3 separate regions of the Homo sapiens genome follow, and regions 2 and 3 are each linked to region 1. Evidence: fine-mapped expression QTL. A gene starts in region 1. Each other region holds a variant in brackets. All regions are shown on one strand. Distances are from middle to middle. Region 1 holds the start of SEPTIN2 (septin 2). Region 2 overlaps HDLBP (high density lipoprotein binding protein). Region 3 holds the start of LOC105376810 (a long non-coding RNA gene).

Evidence for each region. PIP is the estimated chance that this variant, and not a neighbour inherited with it, causes the effect.
Region 2: its variant is fine-mapped to the expression of SEPTIN2 in Th1 cells (Schmiedel 2018, PIP 0.95).
Region 3: its variant is fine-mapped to the expression of SEPTIN2 in whole blood (TOPMed, PIP above 0.99).

Annotation. Positions count from the first base shown.
Region 1 is chr2:241,314,346-241,317,099 of GRCh38, forward strand. SEPTIN2 (septin 2) reads left to right here and starts at 1,580. Exons shown (of 13, transcript NM_004404.5): 1 at 1,580-1,637. It overlaps HDLBP (high density lipoprotein binding protein), which reads right to left and starts at 1,327. Exons shown (of 28, transcript NM_005336.6): 1 at 1,225-1,327. RefSeq lists enhancers at 303-352, 1,233-1,282, 1,303-1,402, 1,328-2,052, 2,043-2,102 and 1 more and silencers at 583-962, 1,503-1,852.
Region 2 is chr2:241,255,926-241,258,679 of GRCh38, forward strand. It overlaps HDLBP (high density lipoprotein binding protein), which reads right to left. Exons shown (of 28, transcript NM_005336.6): 6 at 675-881; 7 at 259-474. Among named protein-coding and RNA genes, the nearest start is that of HDLBP-AS1, 15 kb to the right of the region's middle. The variant T/C (reference allele first, on the strand shown) is at 1,318.
Region 3 is chr2:241,225,095-241,227,848 of GRCh38, forward strand. ANO7 (anoctamin 7) reads left to right here. Exons shown (of 25, transcript NM_001370694.2): 25 at 1-882. HDLBP (high density lipoprotein binding protein) reads right to left here. Exons shown (of 28, transcript NM_005336.6): 28 at 2,197-2,754. It overlaps LOC105376810 (a long non-coding RNA gene), which reads left to right and starts at 1,585. Exons shown (of 2, transcript XR_001739176.3): 1 at 1,585-1,673; 2 at 1,798-2,754. The variant G/A (reference allele first, on the strand shown) is at 1,532.

The DNA of each region.
Region 1 (2,754 bases):
CCGCTACCAGGAGCCTTAGACAAAACCCTAATTGTGACTTAACCTATCTTAATAGGGTTTTAAGGAAGTTAGCTGCTAAGAAAGTGACTATCCTTAAGCAGACACCAAATAAATGTGAAGTCATTGATTGAGGGCTTAGGGTATAGGTAGCTATGAATCTGAGGACATAAAACGCAAAACTGAGGGGCAAATCGTCATGTTCCTTAAGATTACGACTCATCCACATTCCTTCAGCCGTTTAATTTCACCATAATAGGCACTGTTTAATAAGCAAAGCCCAAGTCGACTTCCTTCGATTTTACATGGCGTCCAAACACCATGTCAAGTCTGACCCTCTCATTTTTTAAGTCGAATGGAGAGGATATGTAGCAGCTAGCCTTGAGCACCTAACCACTTTTCAAAGGAGCTACGCACAAAAATACCCTAGCAACATGCCACGGTGTCAGAAAGGCTCAGGTTCCCAACACCATGCGGGTCAGCCATTAGGAACTCAGGAAGTGTTTCCTCTAAGCGGGGGAAACCTAGGAAGGCTTCCTGAACGAGGGGTATTTGCGCCAAGCCTTGACGTGAGTCTCGAACAGTTGCAGTGCCTCCAGGCCACGCGGGAGGGAGGAAAGGACACCCCGGGCCGGGGCACAACCCGCGGGCCGGAGCCGCCCGCGCCCATCCCGCTCAGGCCGCAGCCAGGCACGGCACCCTCCCGTCCCCGAGCCACGTCGCTGCTCGTGGGCTCGCGGAGCACTCCCCAGGTCTCACCTCGGGCCCCACACCAGAAGGAGAAAGCTAGGGGCCGCGCCAGCTCCGCCCTCCCCCGCGGGGCGGCGGGCCCCAGCCCGGGCACAGGAAGGCCACGTCCCCGGGGAGGGACGCCCGACTCGATGGTCTGCGCAGGGCCCGTCGGCCCCACGTGACGTGCGCGCAGCCAATCCCAGAGAGGCCCCCCGATCATCGAGACGGCGGCGGTGGTGGGCTAGACGAGTTTCGCGCGGCCGCTCGCCGTCCCCCGCCCAGTCGTACTCGGCGCCCCAGCTCGGTGCTGCCGCCATCTTCTTGGAGGACAGGAGGAGAGGCGAAGGCTCCCCCTCCCCGTGATCGCTCCGCACTCCCGCCACCACCTGCCCTCCCGCGACCGCCTCTCTCCTCCTCAGTGGGCACTTGTCTCCTTCTAACAAACGGCCTTCCCCCCACTCCAGTTACCCACCGCAAGGCGAAGATTCTCATTACCTGTTCCACTCTTATAAGCATAAGAAAACCGAGCTCATAAGGTAGGAACTGTGGCGAAACAGGGACAAGCCGCCATCTTGGTAAAGGAGAAGAGGCTACGCTTGACCTCCCCCCCCACCCCCAGCCTCTATATGGCCAACTGCCGTGGGAGGAGCACGGCGCTTGCGCAGAGGCGGACAACGCGGACGACTCTGGGCTTGCGCACTCGGAAGCCGGCCGCATGGGGGAGGGGAAGAAGGCCAGGTCGCACTGAGCCAGGAAGCAGTTGGCAAAGGGGCGGGGTGACGCGGTGACGCAATCCGCCTGCGCGCTGGGCGGGGCGGGGCGGGCTGGGGCGGGCTGTGAGCGGACCGCGAGCGCTGGGCGGGTCCGCGGCGCGGTCGGTCGGCGCCTGTTCTCGGGCTGTTTGGCGGGTGAGTGTCTCGCCGGTGTACCCCGCACAAGTTGTGGGCCGGCCCTCCCGAGGAGCTGCGGGGGACGCGCCGCTCGTCCCATACTCTCGGGCGGTGGTCGGCTGGCTCTGGGGTGCCGGCGGGGCGGTGTGGGGGAGGGGCGGCCGAGCCCAGGCTCTTCGGCACTTATCGTGGGCTCCCCCGTCCCGGGCGGTCCTAGTGCCGGCGACAGTGGCTCCGACACGGGCAGGCCCGGGCGCGGGAGTGGGGATTCCGGTGACCCCTTGTTGACCCTGCGGGAATTCCTCTGCACTGTCGTCGGTGCTGGGCCTCGGGGCGTCGAGTGCGGTCGAGGTCGGGAGGTTTGGTGCTTGGAGGGAGGATACAGGTTTAGGCCCGACAAACACTTAGAGCTTGTGTGGCCATCTTGTCTTTCTAACGGTGCCATTTCCTCCCTGAGGCGTGGAGGACTGGCCAGCCCCCAAACCTCCAAGCCCATCGGCTGGATGCCGTGGATAAGCGAGGGGAGAGCGACTAGGCCCTGTCTGCGGGTACCTTCGGCGAGGAGAGGCGACGAAGGTCTGCACCAGCGAGGCACGGACAGGCAGCAGGGGGTAGGGTATAGGGTTGGAGGCCGCCGAGTTGGCCCGGGGATGAGGAGCAAACCTGTGGCTTCCGTGGTCTCAGTGGAGTCCCAACTGTGACCTGGCCTACTGGCCCAGACAAACCTGGCTTGCTTTTTTACCTTTTCGGTCTAATTCTTGTCAGTGCCACCAGACCTTGTCCTCTCTCCACGGAAACACACGAACCAACTACACTGAACTTCTTGTAGTTCAAACTTCTGCACCTTTGGCCATTGCCCAAACTCTTAAATCTGGCTACTTCCCACCTTAACTGCCTTCTCCTTACCTAGTCTGTGCTTGTGGGATTCCGCCCAAATTAGATTTCCTCCAGACAGGCTTAGGTGTTTACCTGATGTTCCAGATGGTATTTGTCCAGTGGACTATTGGTGCTGTGAGGGCAGGGCACATGTTGTCACCCATACTCATTGCCTCGGTTGGTGTCTAGCACCTAGTAGGTTCTCAAATACTTTTTGAATCACAGTGCCTGCCGATATATTTAATGTTTCAAAATAGTT
Region 2 (2,754 bases), 58 kb before region 1:
CTGACCCGGGGCAGCCCAGCTGGCAGCCTGTCAGCACAGTCAGAGGCCCAGGACGGCAAGGACAACTGCCAGGCAGATGCTCAACAGCAAGGGGGGGCGGGCACCGATCTCACCCGGGTCACTCAAGTGTAGAGACAATAAGCATCTTCATCAAGGACAAAAAGATAAGGGGCAGAACCAGGCCTTAACTGAATCTCCAGACCCAAATCCTCATTTCTATTCCTGCCCATGGGGATTTGCCTCCTCTAAATCGTGTACCTTCTCCTCATAAATCTTCTTGATGCGAGCCACAGCCTGAGCCAACTGTTCCTTCTCTCCAGTGAAGACAATCTCTGTCCGGTTCACGCTGGGTGGGGGGATGTTGATGCGCGTGCCTGTCTCCTGCATGATCTCGCCAACCAGTCTATTATACGGCCCAGCGATGAAGGGGTGGAATGCCTTTTCTACTTCTAGCCTCTCCACAGCACGTTTGTCCTGGAAAGGAAGGGATGATCTGATGAGAACAGGCCTTTGAAAACAAACTGGGGACAGACAGGGCTTTTTAGAGTTGGAGTCAAGCCCTCCACCCCCACCACATTATGCCTTGAAGTCCACACTGGACACGGCAACCCATGAGGGAGTGAGGTCTGCACAAGCAGGTAGGCAGGGGCACGAGGCACTCACACAGGCCTCACCTGCTCGGCAGAGATGAGTAAGACTTCATGGCGAGCTTTCTCGATGCCCTCTTTGGTGCCAGTGATCTTGATCTGATTGCTGGGGTCATCTGGGCGTGGGATCTGGATTTTGGTTGCAGTTTTTAGCTCCAAGTCTTGCAGTTTCTCTCCATTTTTGCCAATAACAAAGCGATGGTGTTCTTTGGGAATGGCAACAGTTGCTGAGGCCTATAGCAAGAAGAGAATAAAAGAAAACAAGAATATTTGTAGGTTCTGAAGGAGCATATTTTTCCAAGACATTCTGGCAGAAACACCATCTTTGCTTATTCCTGCCCAGCAGCACCAACTCATCCATTAAAACAGCATGAGCTTAAACATCACATGCTTGGGGAAGGTTGCCCTGACTCCCAGGTTAGGGTAAGTTCGAGTGTATCTGCACCACTACTTAACATCCACTGGAATATACACCCACAAAGGGAGACAAGAGTTAACATCCACAAAAGCTGGACAGGAAGAAGCATGACTGCATATCCAGAAACCCTGAAAAAACTACTGGGTGAAATTCTATTTATAGCAAAGAGAAAAGACTGAAATCAAGAAGTTAACAACATTAACTTCCACAAACAACAACTACTTAGAAGATGTAATGAAAGAGATGCGTTTC[T/C]TTTTTTTTGAGACGGAGTCTCGCTCTGACGTCAGGCTGGAGTGCAGTGGTGCCATCTTGGCTCACTGTAACCTCTGCCTCCTGGGTTCAAGGGATTCTCCTGCCTCAGCCTCTCGATTAGCTGGGACTACAGGCGTGCGCCACCATGCCCAGCTAATTTTTATATTTTTAGTAGAGGCAGGGTTTCACCATGTTGGCCCCGATGGTCTCGAATTCCTGACCTTGTGATCCGCCCACCTCAGCCTCCCAAAGTGCTGGGATTGCAGGTGTGAGCCACTGCGCCTGGCCAAAAGATGTGTTTCTAATAGAAAAAAGGAAAAAAGAAAAAAGGACAAGAAAATAGCAAGACACAAGCCCAACACAAGGTGGAGTATGTGCATTCGAAATTAGAAAACACTCCTTAAAATAGCTAACAGAAGGTTTAAGTAGATGGCGATCATCCCAATTAACTTTAAAATATTAATACAATTTCAAACAGTTGATTATAAAGGTTGTAACACAGAACCAACAAAAATGAACAAGAAAACCCTGAAAAAGAATAGTGCAGGGTGGAGGTGTTAACAGTGGTCCTAGACATTAAACATGAAACCATTATCATTAACACAGGAAATACCAGTATACGGAAAGACCTGCTGGTCTGAACTGAAAACCCAGAAACAGAGCTAAGTTAATATAAACATTTAGGACATGATAAAAGCAGCCACTCAAGTTCACTAGAGCAAAACGTCTTTTCAAGACAGTGATGGCACGCCTGTAATCCCAGCACTCCGGGAAGCCGAGATGAGAGGATTGTTTGAGCCCAGGAGTCCAAGATCAGCCTGGGCAACATGGTGAGACCTGACTTCTACAAAAATTTTAAAAATAAGCTGGCCAAGGCCAGGCGCAGTGGCTCACGCCTGTAATCCCAGCACTTTGGGAGGCCGAGGTGGGTGGATCACGAGGTCACCAAAAATACAAAAATTAGCATGGTGGCAGGCGCCTGTAATCCCAGCTACTCGGGAGGCTGAGGCAGGCGAATGGCGTGAACCCGGGAGGCGGAGCTTGCAGTGAGCCGAGATCGCGCCACTGCACTCCAGCCTGGGCGACAGAGCAAGACTCCGTCTCAAAAAAAAAAAAAAAAAAAAAAAAAAAATTAGCTGGCCATGGTGACGTGTGCCTGTGGTCCCAGCTACTGGGGTGGCTGAGGCAGGAGAACTGCCTGAGCCTAGGAGGTTGAGGCTCCGGTGAGCCGTGATCATGCCATGGCACTTCAGCTTATGTGGCAGGCTGAGACCCTGTGTTACAACAAACAAAAAAATAGTGCTGACAACTCGAAAGCCGTATGGAAAAAAGTGAAACTCAATCAGTGCCTCAACCCTATTTGCAATAAATTCCAAATAGATCAGAAACTGAAATGTAAGAACACATTTACAAGCAGCAGAAGAAAAGATAAACTTT
Region 3 (2,754 bases), 89 kb before region 1:
ACATGAAGCTTCCCCTGGCTAACTTGCTACCCCGCAGCAATCCCAGTGTGGCCGTCTGCTTGCTAAAAAATGGATCTGTGCTCATCTGTATTGATGTCCTTGGAGTTCTACAAGTGGAACTTAAGTGTCAAAAAGAATATGTGGTTTTTAGCTGAGCGTGGTGGCTCACACCTGTAATCCCAGGACTTTGGGAGGCTGAGGCAGGAGGATTACAAGGTCAGGAGTTCGGGACTAGCCTGTCCAACATGGTGAAACCCTGTCTTTACTAAAAATGCAAAAATTATTCTGGGTGTGGTGGCGGGCATCTGTAATCCCAGCTATTTGGGAGGCTGAGGCAGGAGAATCGTTTGAACCCGGGAGGCGGAGGTTGTAGTGAGCTGAGATCTCAACACTGCACTACAGCCTGGGCGACAGAGCAAGACTCCGTCTCGGGAACACACACACACAAAAAGAATATGTGGTTTTAATGTGCTTTGATGAGTACTGCCAAACTTACTCCACAGAAAAGGCCTCTTTCTGAACATCCTCGCCTGCGTTCTATTTCACCCACCGTGATGCCTGGCCTGAGGGCGGCGTGCTTGCTTGTAGCATTTCTTGAGGATTTGCTACTTGTTCACCTGCCTCTTAGGAGCACTGTGCCCTGCCTCCATGGAAGGGCTCTTCCGGCAGGGATGCAGGCTCACAGCGCCCTGGGGCTGGACACCACCGGCCGGAGCATGGCGGACAGCACACACGGCCCGGGGCGGGAACCTTGGAAACTTTACACAGATGGGGAGCTCAGCCATTCCACGTGTGCTTTCGCTCAGCACAATGCTTACTACAAACCCACGTGTACTTCCTTCCAGCTGGTTGCTTTTTATTGTTGCTGTCTTAAACTCCAAAGTTTTAAGGTGAATTTATTGAAACGTACGAAAATGCTCAGTTCATACAGGCTTCCAGGTGAACAAACTGTTGTAACCAGCACGTGGGTAAAAGGCAAGTTCCACATCACCCGACGTGGAAGCTCCCCGATGCCCACGTGCGCCCTACCCTGTGACCCTCTCCCATCCAGGGCCCTGATGCCCACATGCGCCCTACCCTGCCTGTGACCCTTTCCCATCCAGAGTAGCCACCACCTTAGCCACCAAGCAGAGATGGAACTGGGGACTTTGCATTTGGCGTCTGCCGTGGGACATTGCGCGAGCTCCATCCGTGCCGAGCATCCATCTCAGCCCCTCCTGGCTGCTGGGCTGCTTCGTGTTTGGCTTAGGGTCATTTTGCAGTTGTGTGCTTTGCTGTGGGTTGCATATTTAGGGCCCAACAGAACTGCTGGGTCAGGGATAAACATGTTCGGCATTTTTTTTTTTTTGAGATGGAGTCTCGCTCTGTCACCCAGGCTGGAGTGCAGTGGTACGATCTCGGCTCACTGCAAGCTCTGCCTCCCGGGTTCACGCCATTCTCCTGCCTCAGCCTCCCGAGTAGCTGGGACTACAGGCGCCCGCCACCACACCCAGCTAATTTTTTGCATTTTTAATAGAGACGGGGTTTCACC[G/A]TGTTAGCCAGGATGGTCTTGATCTCCTGACCTCGTGATCCGCCCACCTCGGCTTCCCAAAGTGCTGGGATTACAGGCGTGAGCCACCGTACCCGGCCAACATGTTTGGCTTTAAGAGGAACTGCCATACCCGTCTTCCCAGGTGGGGACCAGCCCAGTCAGCAGCAGGAACACCTATTCCCTCTTGACTCTTCCCGTTATCTCCTGCCACTCAGGTGACTGGGGTGGCTCCTCCCACTCAACGCCCCTCCCTCCTCCTCCTCCAGCCGAGGCCTCCGCCCGCACCCCCCACCACCCAACTCAGCTCGTCATAACTCACAGGCCGGGTCCAGGGTGCCAGGAATGCCACTGAGGCTGGCAGAGTCCTAAAAGGGAGTGGCAGGTGCTGCTCCACAAGGACGGTTGTCCACCCTCAATGAGGGCTGCAGGGCAACTGCTGACTGTCTGGCAGCCAGAGGACAGGGACAGGCAGCCACCCTCTTGCCATGACCACACCTGGGTCTCCCTCAGTGTGGCTCCCGAGGGGCCGTTGAACACAGTGTTGAGAACTGCTGAGAAAATCACACCAAAGACGAACTACCCACAGATGCCAGTCACCACTCCAGGGTGACGAGAAAGAGAACACACAGGCGGCAGCGTGACAAAATGAGTCCCAGCATGCTACATCTGGTTTCGGGTTTTATTTTAGAATTTATAAAATTCCAGTGTCATCCATATTCATGAGCCTTTACACATGTTTGCATATAATCTCCAAATTCCAAAGTTAAGGCCAAGGGATGGATTGTAGCTATGGAAACAGATGATATGGAAGACATCCAACAAGGAGGAAAAGCACACGCACGCCTCACCCCTGCCTCATCTCTGCCCAGGGCTGTCCTGACAGCACAGACGCTTCAGGGAGACAGGCCTGGGGACAGTCATGTCATCACCCTTGCAACAACCACCCAAAGGAAAAGAGAGCGCTGAACAGTTTAGGAAAGGGCTCGCGTCTAAGACATCAAGCGACATACAGAGATGTGCAAAACTTGGTGAGAATTAAAATTGACCTTTGGGAGAGGGTAGGGGCAGGATGTTTTATGACACTGTAGAAAAGACAGGAGGAACCCGCTGCGATGGAGATTGGGGGGAGCTGGAAGCAAGCAGCCAACAGGACAGAGTTCCAGAACTCATGCAGATGGGGAAGAGGTGACAGCCCTTCCCCACTGGCCTCCCCCGTGGAGGTG